Linked DNA regions of Homo sapiens. The protein of the gene in region 1 interacts with the protein of each later gene in a biochemical or structural test. Each region holds a gene or a part of one and is shown in the gene's direction. Other genes may lie near its edges. The genes, in order: SMAD2, FHL1, ANP32B, BPTF, NFIA, CDK8 and PPM1A.

Evidence for each region.
Region 2: the proteins of SMAD2 (region 1) and FHL1 form a complex in vitro, tested with the Homo sapiens proteins (one study listed by BioGRID).
Region 3: the proteins of SMAD2 (region 1) and ANP32B form a complex in vitro, tested with the Homo sapiens proteins (one large-scale study listed by BioGRID).
Region 4: the proteins of SMAD2 (region 1) and BPTF form a complex in vitro, tested with the Homo sapiens proteins (one study listed by BioGRID).
Region 5: the proteins of SMAD2 (region 1) and NFIA form a complex in vitro, tested with the Homo sapiens proteins (one study listed by BioGRID).
Region 6: of the proteins of SMAD2 (region 1) and CDK8, one has a biochemical effect on the other in vitro, tested with the Homo sapiens proteins (one study listed by BioGRID).
Region 7: the proteins of SMAD2 (region 1) and PPM1A form a complex in vitro, tested with the Homo sapiens proteins (one study listed by IntAct).

What each region holds. Positions count from the first base shown.
Region 1 is NC_000018.10:47,847,160-47,850,659, reverse strand, and holds part of SMAD2 (mothers against decapentaplegic homolog 2), read left to right. Parts: intron 1-1,972; coding exon 1,973-2,185; intron 2,186-3,500. UniProt on the Homo sapiens protein: Receptor-regulated SMAD (R-SMAD) that is an intracellular signal transducer and transcriptional modulator activated by TGF-beta (transforming growth factor) and activin type 1 receptor kinases.
Region 2 is NC_000023.11:136,209,451-136,211,854, forward strand, and holds the end of FHL1 (four and a half LIM domains protein 1), read left to right. Parts: intron 1-420; coding exon 421-575; 3' UTR 576-1,904; downstream 1,905-2,404.
Region 3 is NC_000009.12:98,003,841-98,007,340, forward strand, and holds part of ANP32B (acidic leucine-rich nuclear phosphoprotein 32 family member B), read left to right. Parts: intron 1-1,123; coding exon 1,124-1,313; intron 1,314-3,500. UniProt on the Homo sapiens protein: Multifunctional protein that is involved in the regulation of many processes including cell proliferation, apoptosis, cell cycle progression or transcription.
Region 4 is NC_000017.11:67,940,503-67,944,002, forward strand, and holds part of BPTF (nucleosome-remodeling factor subunit BPTF), read left to right. Parts: coding exon 1-154; intron 155-3,500. UniProt on the Homo sapiens protein: Regulatory subunit of the ATP-dependent NURF-1 and NURF-5 ISWI chromatin remodeling complexes, which form ordered nucleosome arrays on chromatin and facilitate access to DNA during DNA-templated processes such as DNA replication, transcription, and repair.
Region 5 is NC_000001.11:61,085,561-61,089,060, forward strand, and holds part of NFIA (nuclear factor 1 A-type), read left to right. Parts: intron 1-2,588; coding exon 2,589-3,120; intron 3,121-3,500.
Region 6 is NC_000013.11:26,400,629-26,404,128, forward strand, and holds part of CDK8 (cyclin-dependent kinase 8), read left to right. Parts: intron 1-640; coding exon 641-719; intron 720-837; coding exon 838-996; intron 997-3,327; coding exon 3,328-3,453; 3' UTR 3,454-3,500.
Region 7 is NC_000014.9:60,255,721-60,259,220, forward strand, and holds part of PPM1A (protein phosphatase 1A), read left to right. Parts: intron 1-1,103; exon of another isoform or gene 1,104-1,146; intron 1,147-3,243; exon of another isoform or gene 3,244-3,500. UniProt on the Homo sapiens protein: Enzyme with a broad specificity. Negatively regulates TGF-beta signaling through dephosphorylating SMAD2 and SMAD3, resulting in their dissociation from SMAD4, nuclear export of the SMADs and termination of the TGF-beta-mediated signaling.

The sequences.
Region 1 (3,500 bases):
AATATATATTATACATAATATATATAATATATATATAATATATAATATATATTATACATAATATATATAATATATATATAATATATAATATATATTATACATAATATATATTATATATATAACATATATTATACATAATATATATTATATATATAACATATATTATACATAATATATAATATATAATATATATTATGTATAATATATAATATATATTATACATAATATATATAATATATTATATATATTATACATAATATATAATATATATTATATAATATATATAATATATATTATACATATTATGTATAATATATATAACATATATTATACATAATATGTATATAACATACATAATATATATTATACATAATATATATAATATATAATATATATTATACATAATATATATAATATATAATATATAATATATATTATACATATATATAATAATATATATATACTATATATAATATATATATGAGAGTGTGCACATATATGTACAAATGTGTATGTGTATGGTCCCTTCATAACCATGAGTTCAGCATCTGCAGATTCAACCAACTGCAGATTGAAAATAATCGGGAAAAAATGAAAATAACAATACGACAGTAAAAACTAATACAAATTGTATTTATTTTTATTTATTTTTTGAGACAGAGTCTTGCTCTGTCGCCCAGGCTAGAGTGCAGTGGCGCAATCTCGGCTCACTGCAACCTCTGCCTCCTGGGTTCAAGCAATTCTCTGCCTCAGCCTCCTGAGTAGCTGGGACTACAGGTGCATGCCACCACACCCAGCTAATTTTTGTATTTTTAGTAGAGATGGGGTTTCACTATGTTGCCCAGGCTGGTCTCAAACTCCTGGCCTCAAACGAATCACCCACCTTGACCTCCTAAAGTGCTGGGATTACAGGCGTGAGCCATCGTGCTGGGCCCAAATTTTAAAATACAGTATAACAAATATTTGTATAGCATTTATATTATTAGGTATTATAAGTAATCTAGAGATTATTTAAAGTATACAGGATGACGTGAATTTAAGTTACATGGAAATACTACACCCTTTTATGTCAGGGACTTGAACATCTAAGGGTTTTTAGTTAGGGGGAGCCGGTCCTAGAACCAATCCCCTGTAAATGCCAAGGGATGACTATATATATATATATATATATACATACATTTCTGTATTACTATTATTATTTTTGCCCTCATTTTACCCTATTTCACAATTTCTCTTCGGTTGTTACATGTTTGGAATTTATTCTACAAAATTGTGAGGTTTTTTTCTTTTGCAGTATTCCTTATGATATGTTTTAGTCAAACTGCAGAAGCTAAATATATAGTTTTCCAGTGAAATAAGTAGTCTTTTGACTCTATGGTCTGTTTCTACTTGCATGATCTTTGTGTGTTACTGCTTTCTGGTTCTTATGTATGAGTGGGTTTTCTCTTTTTGTAGCTAGGGTATCTCACCAAGAGTTTGATGTTAAAATAGACAAATGTCAAAAATATGTCATATTTTGTATCCTTTTATTATTACTGTTTTTCTTTGTGTGGCTTTTGACTCATTAATCTTTGCTCTGGCTTTATCTTACCCCACTTTAGCTTTTTTATGTGCTTTAGAAATGCACCAAGTATGGCAAGTTGACTGACTTTGCCTATGATTGTTTTGTATTTGAACAGGAGCTAGACTAAAACTACTGGTAAAACAAAGAATCCAACATAAAGTGATTTAATGACATGGGAGAAATTTGAAAAAATCTGGTATGATCTATGAAACTGGAGTTTTGTGTGAAAAATACTGAAAATCTGGTATCATCTGTGGAAACCGATACAGATACTATGTCTACTTCCTGAGCTTTTGCCAGTGCAGGCTGGCATAGAGCATGTAAAGATGATTATATTAAATCTATTTTTGGCTTGAATTGTTCACGCATTTCTTCCTTTTATTATTTTTTTATTTTTTTCTTTTTCAGATTTACAGCCAGTTACTTACTCAGAACCTGCATTTTGGTGTTCGATAGCATATTATGAATTAAATCAGAGGGTTGGAGAAACCTTCCATGCATCACAGCCCTCACTCACTGTAGATGGCTTTACAGACCCATCAAATTCAGAGAGGTTCTGCTTAGGTTTACTCTCCAATGTTAACCGAAATGCCACGGTAGAAATGACAAGAAGGCATATAGGTATGTTTTATTTTCCTTGTTGTGAAAAATAAATGCTGTATACTCATAATGTAGGCATTGCATGGTGTGCCACATCAAGAGCTTGTGTGCAGTAAAACCAGCTTTCTCTCTGGTGGTTTAAGTGCCGACACATTTAAGTGCACAGGCTTCACTGCTTCTAATAGATCCTGGTGATGCTTCAGCTGCAAACTCTTCAACTTTTATTTGGCACCCTTGGTACTGGAAAGTTCTTCAATAAATATGTGTTAAGATAAGTTTAATTTGCTGAGTCTCTACCAGTCATAAAATTGCCATGTTCAGATTTGGGGGTTAATACTTTTTTATAAATCATGTTTTTTTGTTTTGTTTTGTTTTTGTTTTTTTTCAGTTTCTTTATATAGCTCCCAGGTTTTTTCCCCCTTTGGTGAGTTTATATATTAAATGAAATCTGCTTGCTGTTCATCTGAAATGAGATATCTAAAACAAGAACTGCATTTAATATAGTTCAAAATATAATTCAGGGACATCTCAAAATGTGGTCTGGGGACTTCTGGTAGTCCCAGAAACCCTTTCAGCTAGTTTGTGAGGTCAAAGCTATTTTCATAGTAGTACTGAGATGCTGTTTGCCATTTCTACTCTCATACTCTCATGACTGTACAGTGGAGTATTCCAGAGCCTACATGCATATGATTTTGCAAGAGATGAAATGTAGATTTGATAATGAGACTCCAATTCTGTTACACTAGACATGAATGTTGAAATGTTGCCACTCTATTTTTTTTTTTTTTTTTTTTTGCTTTGGAAATATAGTTGTTTTTCATAGACAAAAATGGTGAAATGTTGCCACTCTATTTTTTTTTTTTTTGCTTTGGAAATACAGTTGTTTTTTATAAACATTGTTAATATGTAATGGATTTGATTTTTAAATGAATTTTTTAAATCTCAGTTTTTATATCTAATATGGTCATTTTCCATAATATTCACATAAACAAAAGCTCTTTGGGGTCCTCAGTATTTCCTTAACGATGAAGTGAAAAAGTGTGAGAACCATTCATAATTGAACATCATTCTCATCACCTTAAAGTAACTTCTTTTAACAGTAGTTTGCTTCTGTTTTTTTTCTAATTAACCATTACCTCCTGTGAGAAGTAATGCTGGTTATCAAAGTGTGATTTTGATACTGCAAAATGATAGTGACTAGAAGATCTATTACTTGGTTCCAAGTGGAAGTTCTCAAATCTTGCTTGATGTATAAATTTGGATAATCTTATTAAGATACCCAGTGTCGCTGTAGGTGCTTTAACTAAAATAGTTTTTTGTTTTTGTGACTTAATTG
Region 2 (2,404 bases), on another chromosome or scaffold:
ACACCCCACGAACAGCCCAAGTTTGCCTCCTGGTGGCCACTTTGATGTCATGGCCCTGACCTAAATCAAAGAAACTGGTTATGCTGGGAGGTCGGTGCGCGTCACAGGGCAATAGCGTGGTGGCATGGGAACGTGGGGTCTTTACATCAGGGAAGCCCTTGGCCGGGCTTCAGCATCTTCTCAGGTCCTTGAGAGCCACAGCAGGGTTGCGGCGGCATGGGGGACAATGGCGGCGTGGGGGACTGTGCACGATGGAGTGGAGGAGGGGGTCTGGGAGCCAGGCAGACCTGGCTCTTGCGTGCTTGTCGGTCTGTGAGTGGGGCAGGTCGTCATTTTATCTCTCTGAATCGTGGTTTCCTCACCTGTATTCATTCAGCTGTTTCTCTTGTTTTCTTTTCTTTTCTTTTTTTTTCCCCCCAGGGTTTGGTAAAGGCTCCAGTGTGGTGGCCTATGAAGGACAATCCTGGCACGACTACTGCTTCCACTGCAAAAAATGCTCCGTGAATCTGGCCAACAAGCGCTTTGTTTTCCACCAGGAGCAAGTGTATTGTCCCGACTGTGCCAAAAAGCTGTAAACTGACAGGGGCTCCTGTCCTGTAAAATGGCATTTGAATCTCGTTCTTTGTGTCCTTACTTTCTGCCCTATACCATCAATAGGGGAAGAGTGGTCCTTCCCTTCTTTAAAGTTCTCCTTCCGTCTTTTCTCCCATTTTACAGTATTACTCAAATAAGGGCACACAGTGATCATATTAGCATTTAGCAAAAAGCAACCCTGCAGCAAAGTGAATTTCTGTCCGGCTGCAATTTAAAAATGAAAACTTAGGTAGATTGACTCTTCTGCATGTTTCTCATAGAGCAGAAAAGTGCTAATCATTTAGCCACTTAGTGATGTAAGCAAGAAGCATAGGAGATAAAACCCCCACTGAGATGCCTCTCATGCCTCAGCTGGGACCCACCGTGTAGACACACGACATGCAAGAGTTGCAGCGGCTGCTCCAACTCACTGCTCACCCTCTTCTGTGAGCAGGAAAAGAACCCTACTGACATGCATGGTTTAACTTCCTCATCAGAACTCTGCCCTTCCTTCTGTTCTTTTGTGCTTTCAAATAACTAACACGAACTTCCAGAAAATTAACATTTGAACTTAGCTGTAATTCTAAACTGACCTTTCCCCGTACTAACGTTTGGTTTCCCCGTGTGGCATGTTTTCTGAGCGTTCCTACTTTAAAGCATGGAACATGCAGGTGATTTGGGAAGTGTAGAAAGACCTGAGAAAACGAGCCTGTTTCAGAGGAACATCGTCACAACGAATACTTCTGGAAGCTTAACAAAACTAACCCTGCTGTCCTTTTTATTGTTTTTAATTAATATTTTTGTTTTAATTGATAGCAAAATAGTTTATGGGTTTGGAAACTTGCATGAAAATATTTTAGCCCCCTCAGATGTTCCTGCAGTGCTGAAATTCATCCTACGGAAGTAACCGCAAAACTCTAGAGGGGGAGTTGAGCAGGCGCCAGGGCTGTCATCAACATGGATATGACATTTCACAACAGTGACTAGTTGAATCCCTTGTAACGTAGTAGTTGTCTGCTCTTTGTCCATGTGTTAATGAGGACTGCAAAGTCCCTTCTGTTGTGATTCCTAGGACTTTTCCTCAAGAGGAAATCTGGATTTCCACCTACCGCTTACCTGAAATGCAGGATCACCTACTTACTGTATTCTACATTATTATATGACATAGTATAATGAGACAATATCAAAAGTAAACATGTAATGACAATACATACTAACATTCTTGTAGGAGTGGTTAGAGAAGCTGATGCCTCATTTCTACATTCTGTCATTAGCTATTATCATCTAACGTTTCAGTGTATCCTTACAGAAATAAAGCAGCATATGAATAACCTGCCTCCTGTCTTTTCATTCTGCCTGGTGGAATCGCTATAAGGTGATACTCCTAATCCAGAAACCTAAATGACTTATTTTCCTTCCAGGATATACTCACTTTAGTGCAGGCGCACAGAACATAGGAATTATAAACAAACCTGTAAAAACCACACTTGATTGATAAATAAATAATTAAAAACAAACAGAAACCACTCTGACCTAAAATAGTATTTCCCAGATTTTCACATCCCTGAAAAAGAAAGAAAACGATGAATTGGTTTGATTTGGCCAGGGGATTAGGGAGGGAATCCCTGATGAAGCATGGCACTGAGAAGCCATCTTGGTCCCTGTTTGTTGGGTGCTTCCTCGGTGTGCCTTTCCCCTTGTGCCCTCTGGAGCCTGGGGTCCAGGTTGAACGTGACCATCTCAACTGCGGCTGCCTCCACCTGCCAGCTGAATGACACCCTCGCTCCTTCTTGTGGATGTGGCTCACTAAGGAAGCTGCCCATTTGGGCCC
Region 3 (3,500 bases), on another chromosome or scaffold:
ATTAAAGGTTGTGTTTATGAAGCTATCCAGATATATGTAGTTATTGCCCCTATTCTGAAAGGCACCAGGCTATGTGCTACTTCACATTGGATTTGCCTTTCATAGGCTGCTCCCTCTTCTATCTACAAGGGTCTGCTGTCACTTCCTGTTGCTGTCTCCTGACTTGCCTATAGTGTAGTACCTCTGCCCTCTCAATCTCTTAATTTACCCTTAATCAAAACTTAATAGACCTGGGATTGAAATACTAGTACACTGATATAATAACAAATGAAGATCTGAGTAAATACATAGACATTTTCCAGTGCACTTTGACTACTCAGAAAACTTGACTTGGGCCAACTTTTTATAGCTTAACTGTTTTTAGATAGATGAAACTGATGGTTCCAAAGAAATGAGGTATTGCAACAAAATTTCAAGGTATGGTAAATAAAATCAGAAGAACTTTACATCATAAAAGTCTGGTAACATGTCAGTCTTTTCCCCAAATACTAAAAAAGAAGAGTGCAATGTTTCTCCGTATTTCCGAAGTTTCAACTCTGCGCCCCTCTGCTTTTTCCTCAGCCCATATTGACTCCTGTCTTCCCTGAAAGTAGCTGCATTGCCACACTTTATATTTTATTATATTTCATCCTCTAGTGTTTCATGTCTGTGCCCTAACTAAAATTGTAAGCACCCTAAGATTGTGTTATAAATCTCTGAATTTTTCCCTATACTGCCACCCTAGAACATTAAAGACCGCTTGATACCCAGGAAGTTCTTAATGGCCATTTGATTACTCAAATGTTAACATTTGTTTCAGCTAAATTTATTAAACTGTTTGATTGTCTCATACTGTGAAAATACCTGGATTTAATAAAAATTATTTTCAATTTATATTTCTTTAGACTACTATGCTGCCAGAAAAACACATAGTTCTCTGGGAGAGTAGATAAAGGAAGAGAGGGACTAAAGTCTAGTAACCTAATATAAAGGTTGCAAAAGACTTGATGTATTTTTCTATATATGAGGCTGAGTGGGTAGTGGAAATTGAATATAGAGCCTAGAATTTTACCTCTTCAAGAGATGGATTTGTTACTTATATTCCTTTGGTTTAGGAGTTGTGGTTTTTGATCCTTTTCTTCAGAAAAAGTTAGAATGTCTGAAAAGCCTGGACCTCTTTAACTGTGAGGTTACCAACCTGAATGACTACCGAGAGAGTGTCTTCAAGCTCCTGCCCCAGCTTACCTACTTGGATGGCTATGACCGAGAGGACCAGGAAGCACCTGACTCAGATGCCGAGGTGGATGGTGTGGATGAAGAGGAGGAGGACGAAGGTGAGTAGGCTCAGCATCTGGTGAACCTGATGTCTGCCTTTCAAAGCCTCTGATAAAAGCTATTGGATGTTGGCCGGGCGCAGTGGCACACAACCGTAATCCCAGCACTTTGGGTGGCCGAGGCAGGGGGCATTGCTTGAGCCCAGGAGTTTGAGACTAGCCTGGGCAACATGGCAATACCTTGTTTCTACAGAAAATAGAAAAAAAAAAAATTAGCCAGGTGTGGTGGCGCACACCTGGAGTCTTAGCTACTCAGAAGACTGGAGGCCGAGGTGGGAGGATCACTTGAACCTAGGAGTTTGAGGCTACAGTGAGCCATGATTGTTCCCCACTGCACTCCGTCTCAGAAGACAGACAGGGTGTCTCAAAAAAAAAAGCTACTAGATGTTCTTACTATTGAGGAAAATAGTGTGTGTTTGTGTGCGTGCGCACGCGTGTATTTTTTGAATGTAGGCATTCCATTAAATTTATAGCTAAGGCCTATTTCATAAGCACCTGGCCTCAAGGGATCCTCCCACCTCAGCCTCCCCAAGTGGTGGGATTACAGGGATGAGACACTGAACCTGGCCCGGGAAGCATTTCCTGAAGTCTACAAGCTAAGTTAGGATGCTGTGCGTTTAAACTGTAAACCGCTTGCTCTTACAGGCTTGCCACTCTGCTGTTCTTAAGTCTTCCTACTTCAGGGGTCTTCAACCCACAGGCCACAGACTGGTACTACTCCATGACCTGTTAGAAACCAGGCCGCATGAGCAGTGAGGAAGCCTCATCTGTATTTACAGCCACTCCCCATTGCTCACATTACTGTCTGGGCTCCACCTCCTGTCAGATCAATGGTGGTATTAGATTCTCATAGGAACGAGAATCCTATTGTGAACTGCACATGTGAGGGGGCTAGGTTGTGTGCTCCTTAGAAGAATCTAATGCCTGATGATCCGAGGTGGAGCTGAGGTGGTGATGCTAGAGCTGAGGTGGTGATGCTAGCACTGGGGAGTGGCTGCAAATACAGATTAACATTAGCAAAGAGGTTTGACTTTACAGAGATGATAATAAATCAATTGCTTGCAGACTCATCAACCCCTATCTGTGAGTGGCAAGTGACAAGCTGCATCTGGTGGCAGGCTTTATAGTGGCAAGTGAGTTGGTGTACTTCAGTTGTACAGCTGTATCTGGTGACAGGCTTTAAGTCAGAATCTGATGCTTTTTTTAGTCAGTGCATGGCCTGCCCATTTTTTTATTTACCACTTCCATCCACACCTCTTTCCCGCACTGCGTATTTGTCTCAGTCACAGTTTTGTTAGGCCCACAAGCTAACTATCCAACATGAGTAAAAAACGTCGCTGGAGAGCTTCTTTGAGAAGGGGGAAAGACCCAATAATGAGACAGCAGAAGACAAGACTGCCAATGAAAAGAAAGCTTCATTGAAAAGAAAATACCAAGAGTGCTACTTAAATTACAGGTTCATTGCAACAGATGATTCACATTCTCCAAGCCCACTTTGTATAATATGTGGCAACAAGCTATCCAACAAAGCCATGAAACCTTCAAAACCACTTCACTGGCTGGGCACAGTGGCTCATGCCTGTAATCCCAGCACTTACAGAGGCCGAGGTAGATCACCTGAGGTCAGGAGTTCAAGACCAGCCTGGCCAACATGGGGAAACCCTGGCTCTGCAAAAATACAAAAATTAACCAGGCATGGTGGTGCACACCTTTAGTCCCAGCTTCTCGGGAGGCTGAGGCATGAGAATTGCTTGAACCTGGGAGGCGGAGGTTGCAGTGAGCCGAGATTGTGCCGCTGTGCTTTAGCCTGGGCGATAGAGCAAGACTCCATCTCAAAAAACAAACAAACAAAAAAAAAACTGCTTCACCACTTGGAGACCAAGCACCCTGCGTTTAAAAGACAAGCCTTTGGAGTTTTTCAAAAGAAATAAACATGAACGTGAAAAACAGAGGCAATTATTGAAAGCTCCCACTTCATCAAATGTGACTGCACTGAGAACATCTCATTCTTAGTGGCTAACTGCATTGCTAAAGCTAAGAAGCCCTTAACTAACTGCATTGCTAAAGTAAGAAGCCCTTTACTATTGAAGAGTTGATCCTGCCTGCTGCTAAGGACATTTGTCATGAACTTTTAGGAGAGGCTGCAGTTAAGCTGCAGTTCAAAAGGTGGCACATGTTCCTCTTTGA
Region 4 (3,500 bases), on another chromosome or scaffold:
CCCTAACACGGTTTCCTCAACACCTGGGCAGAAAAGCTTAACTTCAGCAACGTCCACTTCAAATATACAGTCTTCAGCCTCACAACCCCCTCGCCCCCAACAAGGACAAGTGAAGCTCACCATGGCTCAACTTACTCAGTTAACACAGGGCCACGTAAGTAACATAAGCTTTATTTTAACTTTAGAGGTGATCTTATTTATTCTTGCGGTAAGTTTAAAAACATGAACTTATTTTGATACGTTTTTAAATGTGCTGATTTGAAGAAATGGTTGCTTCCTGGAGTCAAGCAGAAATACCTCTTAGACAGGATATAATAAACCCCAACTACTAGAGTAATCTTTAGACAGTGAGCTAAAACAGTGAGACAGATAACCCTTTTAAACACCAAAATTTTATTAGTTGGCTAATCTCCATGAGACAAATAAAATTTGAGTACATTAAGCTGCTTCCTTGCAAGACTCGATATTGTTAGCAAGTCTTCTAATATTGATTAATAAATTGAATGCAGCTCCCATCAAAATCCCAAGAGGTTTTGTTTTTAGTGAAACTTCACAAGCTGATACTGAAAGTTTATATGGAGGTACAAAGTATTAAGAATATCTGTACCTTTGAAGAACAGGATTATTTGCCCTATATATGATAACTTGATATCAAAACTTAGTATAGGCTGGGCATGGTGGCTTGCGCCTGTAATCCCAGCACTTTGGGAGGCCAGGGCGGGTGGATTGCTTGAGGTCAGGAGTCTGAGACCAGCCTGACCAACATGGTGAAATTCCATCTCTGCTAAAAGTACAAACAAATTAGCTGGGCGTGGTGGCATGCGCTTGTAATCACAGCTACTCAGGAGGCTGAGGAAGGAGAATTGCTTGAACCTGGGAGGCGGAGGTTGTAGTGAGCTGAGATTGCACCACTGCATTCCAGCCTGGGTGACAAAGCAAGACTTCATCTAAAAAAAACCAAAAAACTTAGTATATAATACTTCACTAATTAATATAGTGAGGTACAGACATAAGGAGAGGCAGATAGACCAACAGAACAGTAGAGAGTGCAGAACATGAACCCCATGTATGTGGACACTTGTTATATGACAAAGGTGACATTGCAGATCATTGAGGAAGAGATGACTTTTCAGTAAATGGTGCCAGGACAATTGAATATACATGGGAAACTGTGAAATTGGACCATTATTACCTCACTCTACATAAACTCAATTCCAGGAGGATGAAAGTCCTAACTGTGAAAGGTAAAACTATAATACCTTTAGAAGATAGAAGAATATCTTCATAGCTTTCCTAAACAGATAGAAAATGCTAACCATAAATGAAAAGATTTATAAATTCAACTACTTTAAAAATAAGAGTAAGAACCTCTGTTCATCAAACTCACTACAGAGAGAGTGAAGAAAATGAGAAAAGAACCAACCAAGGACTATTACATATCCAGAATATATAAAGAATTACTACAAATCAAGAAAGAAAAAAATCCAGATAGATCAATAGGAAAAAAGACAAACAGGCAAGGTGCGGTGGCTCACACCTGTAATCCCAGCACTTTGGGGGGCCAAGGTTTTGGGAGGCCAAGCCAGGTGGATCACTTGAGGTCAGGAGTTTCAGACCAGCCTGGCCAACATGGGGAAACCCCGTTTCTACTAAAAATACAAAAATTAGTCAGGCGTGGTGGTGTACGCCTGTAATCCCAGCTGCTTGGGAGGCTGAGGCAGGAGAATTGCTTGAACCCAAGAAGCAGAGGTTGCAGCGAGCCAAGATATACCACTGCACTCCAACCTAGGCAACAGACTCCGTCTCAAAAAAAAGAAAAACAAAAAAAAAAGGACAAACCAACATTATGAGGAAAGAAGAAATCTAAATGTCCCAAATTCCAAAAAACTGCTGAACTTTATTAATAATGAGAGAAGTACATATTAAAACCATATGCTTAAGAGATTGGTACAAATTTAAATGTCCAACAAAACCAAGAGTTAGCAAAGACATAGAGCAGAAAGAATTCTCATGCACAGCTGGTGGGCCTATCAGTCGGTTCAGCCATTTTGGAAACTTCCTGGACATGGTCTGGTAAAGTCAAAGCTGTGTATGCCCAAGGTCCCAGTATACCTTCTAGGTATATCCCTAGAGAAGTTGTTGGCCATGTGAGCACCAGAATACATGGCATAAATATTGGTAGCAGCATTGTTCATAAGAATCAAAAACTAAGAACAACTCAGGTGTCTATCAAAATCAGTTAGCTAAGTAAATTGTAGTATATTCCTACAGCAATAAAAATGAATAGACTTCAGCCACACAGAACTATGCAGATGATTCTCACAAATATATAATGGTAAGCTAAAGAAGCAAGTAGCTGCCAAAAAAAATACATGTTATAATTTCATTTGTATAAGATTCAGAAATAGGCAAAACTAAGCTATTTTGTGTAGGGATACAGGGCTGCTGCATTGCCTGCCTGGAGGGGGCACTATTCCCATTGTATTCTTTGTGAATATTGCTCCTGAGTTTGTGAACCTCAGTGGCCTTATATATACCTAAGATACATACCGAAGTAGTAATGAAATACAGTGTTATCATCAAAGTGAGGATAGTGCTTACCTCTAGGGGAGAGGGAGGGAATTGAAATCCGGGTGAGTCATATGGGGACTTCTAGGACACTGGCAATGGTGACCACAGTGGCGGTTTTATAGATGTTTACTTTATAATTTTTAAATTATACTTGGTGTTTTGTGCATTTTGTGCATAAAAAATGTATTTTAGAAAAGCAAGAGTAAATAAGTTTTGAGGGATTCACATGTATATGGAGCTTACTTAGTACATGGACTTTGCGCCATCAGTTTTGGTCATTGGGAGTTTAGGGGATGGTTTTTACTTTTGCTTTCCAGTTCTCCAGCATGTTCCTGGTATTCAGGGTTTCTAGTTGAATTACAGTTCTGGACAGAAGAGAGAGCGCCTAGAGAATTTTAAATTTCTGGACCCCTTTTTGGTAACTGCTCAGACCTTAGTGATCCTCCTTACTTGGTGTTTGCATTACATATCTAAAACCCTAAGCTTTTTACAGTTTAGCACACACACACCCCATAGGTAATTTGGCACGTATTGAAAGACAAAATTCAGGAGATCTAGGTTCCTTCTTTTATCTCACCTTTAAGTTGGCCAGGGTACTTGACCTTTCTAACCTGAGTTTCTTAGTTGGGAATCAGAAGAATATTTTCTCTGCCTACCCCATAAAGTCACAAGTCCATTGTGAGAATCAAATGAGGCAGTATCTATGAAGATGCTTTTGAAATTGTAAAATATGAATATAAGATTATTTAAAATCAGAATTTTGTGGGGACTTTAGTTATTCAATACCTTTATTTTATAGATTGGGAAACTTGGATCTGGAGGAACAGTGTTGCTTGTGGACAGATAACTGGCTGACCATTGGGGGAGCTTGAACTGGAACTCTGGATTGTTGATGTTTTTCCTACTAAGCAACATAAATATTCTTACTT
Region 5 (3,500 bases), on another chromosome or scaffold:
CACACTACTTTTTTTTTTTAACTAATCATTTATGCTATTCCTGGACATTTCTTGCAAGCTAATGATACTCTTTAGTTTTGATATTCTGGAATATTTTAAATCATGACTTGAGAAAGATACATTAGAAAAAATCAATACTTTAATTGTGCATATGAGTAAAGTTATACAAAATATTGTGGACTTTTACTGGCAGGTTCTTAACCTTTGGGGAGTAATACATTGTAAATACTTTTGATGCAAAATTGGGGACTTAAGTTATTCTTAATGACTAATTGACATAGTTGTTCTTGTTTAAGGATTTTTATGATGAGATATATGGGCATTTGGTTGGCAGGTAAACAGAATCCTGTTGGACACGAATGCATGCATGCAGTTTGCAGTTTTTTGAAAAGCATATTGGGAGTATCTACAGACACTTAAAATGCCATATTAGAATGTTTATTTTAAATGCTTATTATCATTAATCAAACTTTTAAATAAGATAACATTTTAACATAGATATGAATCGTTTGGAGCTAAGTTATACTTTGCATTATAAAATGGGGATGAAACTTTAAAATGAAGTCCTCCTTTTGGTGAAAGCTCACTTGGTAGTTTAAGGTAGACTCCAGGAGTTTTTTGCATAATACAACAGAGTCTTGGTCCCTAGCATGTCTTGTATATATAAGAAAATCAGTCAATGTGAAGTTCTGTTTCAAACCTAAAATTTATGTATTTTAGATCATTTCAAGGATGAGCTCAGAATTTAGTAACGTTTAGATGCTTTGTGGTTTGGCGTATACCTTTGCAGATAAACTGTGACTTGCCCCCCATGCCTGTCACCTAAAGTATGAGAATAAGAAATATTCTCAAACATCAGAAATTTTAAAAATGTTAATGGTTTATGGCAAGAATAACAATTCCTGTATTTTTTTCTATTCTCTCTCTACTTAAAGAATGCACACGTGTTACAAAAGCTGACTACTTCTCTTTTGGATTCTTTTATTGAAAAAGAGCAGTTTTGAAAGCTAAACTTGAAACATAGAACCTGAAATTTGTGCAGAGAGGAAAAAAGTCAGTTATTGAAGTAATTTATTATGTATTAATATATACTTACTTTTAAAAGCTCAGTCATATAGAGTGTTTAAATGATTGATTATAATTTGCTAAATTTTTAAACAACACGACTATTAAATATTTTACCTTATCAGTTCACATTTGAACATTTAAAAATTTAGTAATTGTGTTAATAATAATATTCTGGACATTACTGCTACCTGTGCCTTGAAAGTATATATTTAGTTAGATATAACAAACTGAAAAAGAATGCATTTTATAATATTTGTCTGTCCTACACCATTTAGCAAAAAAGCCATCGAATCTTTCTTTGGTTTCTAATCCTCATTTATTTGAAGGTAATCTATGTTTTGGAGAGGGGGTTATGTGGCAGAGAGAAGTTATGTAACAGTGTGGATTAGTTAATCAAAAGTTAGACGTACTCCGAAAGCTTTGTGGAGGTTACTGCTTAATTTTTTAAAAAATATATTTATATTTCCTAAGAAAATGTCATGTATAAGGATCAAACATTTTAAGCAAAACAGAAAGAAACATTTAAATATTTGAAACTCAATTTTTTTTTCAATTTTAAGAGGCATCTATGAGGGTTTTCCCGGCATCTTGTAAATATTGAAAATACCAGGTTCTGATTCCCTATGAGAAAAATCCTGAAATAGTATTTGCAAAAATTAAATAATCTATTTTTTAGGTATGATTATTACTGAAAGCACTTCACAATCATATTAGTAAATTAAATGTATTCATGTATGCTTTTCTTTGTTTTTTTTTCCTCTTTCTTCCCCCTTTTTGTTTCATTCCCATAGTATTAGCAATTATGTCTTGGGCATAGATCTTTTATTTTAGCCTAATAAATATCAAATTCAATCCTTCTTTTGTATATGAACCTCCCAAATTTGTCCTAGTTTTTGACTAAAAAAATTATATGTAGTTATAATATTTAAAAGGGGAATTTAGACACTAGCAAAATGAGTAAGAAACATATCAGAATCTACATGCAATATTTTTAGGGGGAAAGCCTTTGTTTTCATTGATTGTAGAGATGATTTTTTGCTCCTAGACTTCCATAAACATTGACTGGCATCTAAATGTTTAGGATTTGCCAATCTGGCGGCTGGGCCCTGGCTGTACTACAAGTGGTGAGGTCAAGGCTGGGACAAAATTAGATATGCCTTCCTTGAAATAGGGTTAAGATTATACATTGTTATAAGCATTTAGATAAACTTCACTTACTATCTAAAGGATGGGGAGCTAGGCCCGACAGTAGTAGCTGGTGTACCCTGGTGAACATATTAAAACAGTTTTTTAATTTTCAGCAGTTTTTTTATTTCCGATCATAAGAAATGATACTGATAGTTTTCTCTCCCACCTTCCCAGACTTCCCATAGGATCCTGTGTATGATTTTGGTAACAGAATGCTCTAATCAAATTTCAAGTGAAATGAGGAATTTCTTTCTTAAGGTGACCCGCTGAAGAAAAGTTGTTTTCTTTTGTTTTCATTCTACTTATATTTTTCTTTTTGTTCATTTTCCTAGGATGAATTTCATCCTTTCATCGAAGCACTTCTGCCCCACGTCCGAGCCTTTGCCTACACATGGTTCAACCTGCAGGCCCGAAAACGAAAATACTTCAAAAAACATGAAAAGCGTATGTCAAAAGAAGAAGAGAGAGCCGTGAAGGATGAATTGCTAAGTGAAAAACCAGAGGTCAAGCAGAAGTGGGCATCTCGACTTCTGGCAAAGTTGCGGAAAGATATCCGACCCGAATATCGAGAGGATTTTGTTCTTACAGTTACAGGGAAAAAACCTCCATGTTGTGTTCTTTCCAACCCAGACCAGAAAGGCAAGATGCGAAGAATTGACTGCCTCCGCCAGGCAGATAAAGTCTGGAGGTTGGACCTTGTTATGGTGATTTTGTTTAAAGGTATTCCGCTGGAAAGTACTGATGGCGAGCGCCTTGTAAAGTCCCCACAATGCTCTAATCCAGGGCTCTGTGTCCAACCCCATCACATAGGGGTTTCTGTTAAGGAACTCGATTTATATTTGGCATACTTTGTGCATGCAGCAGGTAAGTGCGATGGTGAGAATTCCTCCCACTTTCTTGTGTGTGTTTCTTTCCTGATGGCCTCCGCGTTATGCCGGATTCTTCCTGAGCTCCCCAAGTTGCAGGCCACGTACATGAAGCCAGTGTGGTTTCAAAGATTGAGAGAGGTGCCACCTTCATTCAGGTGAAAAAGCATAGCTTTGAGCGAATTCTCACTAAGTTCAGCTCTTTTGGTAAGTAGTGTTTTCAGAGGCGTTGGTAATCAGATATGTGATATGTTTAAATCACATTTTTTGATGAGGGGATGAGAGAAGCCTCGTGAAAACCCTTTTAATAAAGAGTATATTTTAACTGACAAATGATCTAGTTTAAAAGCATTTATTTTGGTATTGAGGCAATATTTT
Region 6 (3,500 bases), on another chromosome or scaffold:
TTGCTCCTCCTCTTATATGGGAACCCAAGGAAATCCTTTATGACAAGCAAAAATGAGCTTTGCTGATTAAAGTGTCATTTAGGGGCTTTCCAGTTAAGAGGCATTCCTGTTCATCTCTTGCTTTATGAAATGCTGATCACATTAGTTTCAGTAGTGATCCAGCTATTCAGTGACAGGTTGGTTATGCGTGCTGTAGCTCCTTACTGTCTGCAGTTACAGTTTCATGTTCCAAAATTGCAAATATTCCCAAATGTGTTCCCTATACCATCTTTTGTTTTGTTAATAAATGTAGTAGGAAGGGTAAAACAAAAATTACCTTTGAATGGTGACACATACTTCAGCTAGAATCTATATTTGGTCTGTATTAATAGAAGAGTAATGCTGGGATAAAAGAAGAAAGCTGAATCATACTCGATGATTATTGATCATTTGTATACAGCTCAAGCCCTCAAGTAGCCTGCTGTAATATTACTAGTTACAAAGAAAAGATTCGTTTTGTCACAGTTACATGAAAGGTGCTTATATTTGCAAATATGGAGACAAAGTTCATCTTAAAAGATTAAAATGAGAATCTCCTAAATGAAGCATTTGGAATATTGATTAGTATACCAGAAATGGTTTTTCTTTTTCTTATGATCAGCGTTTTTGCCGGTTGTCAAATCCCTTACCCAAAACGAGAATTTTTAACGGAAGAAGAACCTGATGACAAAGGAGACAAAGTAAGTATTAAAGTACTGTTAGCAGCTTCTTGTTTCGTGAATGCCTCCATAACATTTTCCATTGTGGGTATATTTTGTTCTCCCTCTGAGCTGAACTTTTTCTGTTTAACCAATTGAGAAGAACCAGCAGCAGCAGCAGGGCAATAACCACACTAATGGAACTGGCCACCCAGGGAATCAAGACAGCAGTCACACACAGGGACCCCCGTTGAAGAAAGTGAGAGTTGTTCCTCCTACCACTACCTCAGGTGGACTTATCATGACCTCAGACTATCAGGTATTCCAAGTTTATTTTGTATTGACTGCATGTCAGTGTTTACATATGGGTTTATGATCGTGGGAAAATGTGATTTAATTGAGAAATACTGACGTCTGTATACCCAGGGAAATACATTAACATGAAATGTTACTGGCATGGAAAAGTACTGACAGTGGTATGGTAGCAAGGGTTTAGACTTTTGAACCAGACTTGGAATGATCAAATACAAATTATGCCATTTATTAACTGTGTGACCTTGGACAAGTAGGATAATATCTCCTGGCGTTTTTTCATCTGTAAAATGAAACTAGTAAAACCTAACTTGCAGCTGTTGTCAGATTAGACATGAAGTGGCTTGACACCTAGCTTATGGTAGGAGCTTGATAGCTATTGTTTTGGAACAATGTTTCACAGTGATTAAGAACATAGGCTTTCAGATCCCAGTCTGGCCACTTACTTCTCTGTATCCTTGAGTAAGTGATTCAGATGTTCTCAGTTTCCATTTGTAGACTGGATAATGATCAATGTGAAGCTGTAGTAAGGATTAAATGAGATAACTCTGGGAGGTTAAGTGTTGCAGCCATTTCAGGAAACTGAGGCTTGTAGAGGTTAAATAACTTTCACATGGATCCCCAGCAAGCTGTAGATGCAGGACTCATATTTGATCTGACCACAAAGGCTGTTATGTTGCCTGCTTAGGGATCCTATCATGGCATTGTCAGTTACGTTGTGGAAAGACCCTCTTTGAAAATTGTATACCACCTCCTTTTCTCTTCTGCTTATTCTAACCATATTCCCAACTACACAAGGGTTCAGTGTGGGAAGGATACTGAAAATCTGACCAATTAGAATTATTTACACACAAAAAAAAAGAGAGAGAGAAAGAGATGTTATTAAACTGATAAGGTCCCGAGTGCTCGTTACTGTACTTTCAGAATTAGGTATTAACTCTTTCTTTTGGTTAGGGGAGAAGTCCAGCCCATCACACCATGGAAATCACTGTTGTGTGAGTAGTAATTCTCTTCCAGTTAGCTAAACAAGGACACCAAGGGCAGACAGCTGTGGGAGTTGTTGGTTCCAGTATCTTTTTCTTCCTTTCCGGATGGGAAGAGTGCATCTCTCTTGGCCCACAAATGTGTTTGCACACTAAGGTGATGGCATCCTTAGAAGGAAGCAGAGCAGTGCTCTGACCTTCGCTTCTGGAACCGAGAAAATGATGCCATGCTGCTTTGTTGGTGTGATTGTTGTTGGTTTTTTGTGGATGAATTTTAAAATAGTATTTGTGACTATCATTTCATGTGTCCACTCTTTTTAAAAATGTTACCTTTTCTAGGATTGGCAGAATTTGGAATTATATGTCTTATTAAATATGCTTTGAAAGACAGAAGTAATAAGTTCTGGTTAATCTTTTATAGTGTTTGTCTTGGGAGCAAATAGTATGAGAGAGAGGTGTGAGAATGGGAATAATAATCTAACATATCAAAATTAGAGAACCCCAAACCATCACATTCTTTCTCTTTGTGCCATTTTAGAATTGAGAATACCGTCCTTCTTACTGTGGTTATATTTTTACTTTTGTATATAAACTTGTAGCAGAAAATAAGATTCAGTAGCTTAAAGGGGCCAGGCACTGTGGCTCATGCCCGTAATCCCAGTGGTTTAGAAGGCTGAGGGGAAGGATCACTTGAGGCCTGGAGTTTGAAATCAACCTGGGCAACATAGCAAGACTCTGTTCCTTCAAAAAAAATTTTTAAAAATTAGCTGAGCATGGAGGTGCATGCCTATAATCCTAGCAATGATTATACCATTACACTCCAGCCTGGATGATAGAGTGACACCCTGTCTCAAAAGAAAAAAAAAATAGTTTAAAGGGCATAAAAATGTATTAATGCCAAAGAAATGGATTCTGTGATACCTTCTCCTATCATACTCACTTTTACTCTTCAGTCATGTGTGTGGGGGTGAGTTTTCTACTGAAGAAAGCATGTAAATAAGCTTTGAATTTTTTATGTATACATCATTAAGTTTCTGGGTAAACATCTCAAGCAAATTTACCAAGTAGATACAAAACAGCATAAAAAGGGGTTACTCCTGTAGAAAAAAATGTATTTGCACAGCATAGTAATAAGCCTAGGCTTAATATTATTTACTAGCAATATTTCTGACCTTCCTCAAGAGAAGAGGATGTTAAAATATTTGGGGTTTTTGTCTTTAATTATAAAGTTAGTACATAGCACAAAACCTATACATCCTTTCTTCCTTGAAACATAATGACACTTCAGTCACATATTGGGATTGAGCTTCCCCTAGAAGCACCTGAATCACACTTTTCCCTCATCTCCTTTCCAGCGTTCCAATCCACATGCTGCCTATCCCAACCCTGGACCAAGCACATCACAGCCGCAGAGCAGCATGGGATACTCAGCTACCTCCCAGCAGCCTCCACAGTACTCACATCAGACACATCGGTACTGAGCTGCATCGGAATCTTGTCCATGCACTGTTGCGAATGCTGCAGGGCT
Region 7 (3,500 bases), on another chromosome or scaffold:
ATGTTATTTTTTCTGAACCTGGATATTTAAGTGTGAAGATTATACAAATCTGAAGTGTGGCAGTGTTCTTATATTGATGTAGAAGACTAGGTTGACTGATCCTGGACCTACAAGCTTCATTTTAACTTCCTACATTTTGGCTTTGAGGGTTAACAGGACATTTATAATCACATATCTCTTTTCAGAGTATTTTACATTTGCAAATATTATCATGAACTTTGTGTCCTTTTAACCAGAGAGGAATTGTGGAATCACAGGAATTAGATGATGTGTTAAAGAAGAGAGATAACTATCAGCTGATTTAATTTGAACCCAACAAGTATCTAATAATATGCATACTCTGTGTTCAAATAAACCTCTAAGCTAGACTTTCAAGCTTATCAAAATGCTAGACTATTTTCAGTGTTTAGAAAATACCAGCCAGGTGTGGTGGCTTATGCCTGTAATCCCAGCACTTTGGGAGGCTGAGGCAGGTGAATCACAAGGTCAGGAGATGGAGACCATCCTGGCCAACATGGTGAAACTTTGTCTCTACTAAAATACAAAAAATTAGCCAGGCGTGGTGGCACGGGCATGGTGGCCACCCGCCTGTAGTCCCAGCTACCCAGGAGGCTGAGCAGGGGAATTGCTTGAACCCGGGAGGCACAGGTTGCAGTGAGCCAAGATTGCATCACTGCATTCTAGCCTGGCAACAGAGCAAGACATCGTCTAAAAAAAAAGAAGAAGAAAAAAGAAAATACATAGTAAAATTTATTGGCTTTTTAAATGGATAATTTCATATAGTCAGTCAGTGCCGGCTTAGATCCATTTGTTAGAGAACAATGCTAATGAGACCTCTTGATACTTTGTGTTCCTCTTATGTTTTCCTAGCCTTGACGTTAGCAACTAACAATGATAACTAACATTATTGAGCTCTTATGTGCCAGGGACTATTACAATAGATTTTCAATTATTATCTCATTAAATCTTCATAGCAGCCCTATGAGCTAGATACTGTTACTACCTATATCTTAACAGATGAGGAAATTTGAAACAGAGCAGTTATTTGCCAAGAGTTTCAGAGCTATTAACAGAAGCCTAATACATGTTCTTGGACTTTGCAGAAATAATTTGTTGATCCATGCGGTTTCATTGCTACTGCGGAAAGTAAGTCTCTTGGCCATTGTGATGGGTCAAAATCTTTGTACATGAAGGGTATGACTGTTGTTCCATTGTATCCAGAGAGTGAATCTTGTGATTGAGTTGGGATTTGAGGTGGCAGTGTATACTAAGTTTGAAAAGTATATTATCATATGTTAGCTCCCTTTAGAAATTTTCCCCAAGAAGAGCTATTACATTTTTTAATATTAAAAAAGCATAAGATATGGCCATAATACAATTAGTTCCACAAGCCATACACACTTTTTTCTTATGGCTTAAAATTTTATTCATGTTTACTACTTTGCAACCCACTGATATAAATTATTTCACAGATCCTTTATTCAAATGAAATTCTCAGTGAGTCTGAGAAGATAGTCTTAAACACAAGCTAGCTGAGTTTACAATAGAGATTATACTATAAATGGTAACTTCAATGTTTATTGAAAATAAATTCCTTAAAAACAGGTCTTGTTTCATTCATTTAAAGAGATTATCAATATATGACTGTTAAATTTTTATAGTCTCCCTGTTCATTTTCTGATGAACACATGACAGAAAATTGAATGTGAGCTGGAAATACAGCAGACTATGAGAAAGCATGGGTCATGTATAATCACTTTAAATTTAGGCTGGTGTTTTGTATTCATCTATAATATGACCACCTCAGGGAGGGATGTAAGTAAACATTCTTTTTTTAGTTATACTTTAGGTGGCTTAATTATTTTAAAGAATATGTTATTCAAGAATTGTCTATTGTACTGTTTTAAAGAATAAGAATATAATTCATTACCAACTTTGAATGTCTTGGATTCTTAGTACTACCTTTTTCTTTATCATGACTAGTAGGATCACATCATAATTTGGTACTGTGTGTATAAAGATGAAGTGTGCTTACCTTTATTACCAAAATTCAGAAATGAAAATGTGAATGATAAAAGATAAGGGATGGCTATATATTTTTTTGTTTTTGTTTTTCCAAACAGAATCTCATAACTTACCAGGCTTTAGAAAAACATCTTTGCAGTATGCCATCATACCTCAGAATGTTAAGTAGATAGGAAATAAAATTTTCACTTTTTGTAAAGCAGTAGGGTATTATCCTTTCTGACAGCCTGTAAGACTGTTTTGGTTGCCAAGGGGCCAATCTTAGAAGTGGCAGTTTTTGTTTTGTGACCAACCCACAGCTTACCCTTTGTTAGTCCATATCTGTCATCTTCATTTTCTCTTTCTGCGTAAATGCTTCTTGATACAGTAAGCAGGTGTTTCAACTAGTCAGCCATCTAGTGTGATCTTTTCTGGTTTGCTACAGTCAGTAAAATAAGTAGCTCTATAAGTGTAAATAGTATTACTTGTTTTATGTAGTAAAACTCCAAGATTAAGTTAGAGATATTTTTGGCTAGACTACATTGAATGCATTGACAATGGATTTCCCAGCTCCCAGAAATTCGTTTGTGTCTGAATTACTTTATACTTGGCTTATTGTGTAGAGAAAACTTTAGAAAAAGTTCATCCATCCATGAATGTTGAATGAATGAGCAGATTAATAAATAAATAGCTCAGGGAAAGAAAATGTGTGGGCTTTTAGTCATAACTATGTTTTTTCTCTTTTGTTCCCTTCCTTATGTGCCATTTTTCAATAATGGGAGTGTGTATCTAATGATGTTGATAAACTTTTTAAAGTCATTGATGAACAGTAATCTGAAAATCAAGTTTTGATTAAGCCGTAGATTTCTTTTAGGGTCCAATATTTTCTTTTTAGAAATCCACTATGATATTTTTGTAGGGATAAAAGACAACCATGTATTCTATAGATGGAAAATGGTAGGATACAGTTTGTTGGCCGGCCAACTTCTCTGAAAATACTTTTTCCTGCATAGAAGATAATCAGTGTTGACAAGGGAGAAGCCAAGGTATAATGGCTGTTATTCATCTGTCTCATGTATTCGTCAAGTGTCATGTGTTAAATATGAACAAAAAAGACATAATCTCTTTCCTCCTGGATCTTAAAATCTAAAGTGAGAGATAATTCACCAGATAAATGCTGCGATAAGGGAAATAGAGGATTCTATGAGCTTATGACTAAGGATAGATCTGTTTCCTCAGATGTGGAACTAAGAAGTGGCAGTAGTTGAGAAGTTCATTTTGGGCCATGCGATTTGAGGTGTGGCTATTCAAGTATAGGAGGTAGGTGGTTACACATTTTTTAAGCTATTAAATAGAACTTTCACTTGAAAAGGTTTTTTTCTCTCTTTCCTCAGCATCTATCTCCCTACATACACAAAAAAATTGCATGTCACAATTCATGAACTCAGTGAGTGACTCTATTTTGAAAAATGTTAGATTATATCAACTGAAGTCTG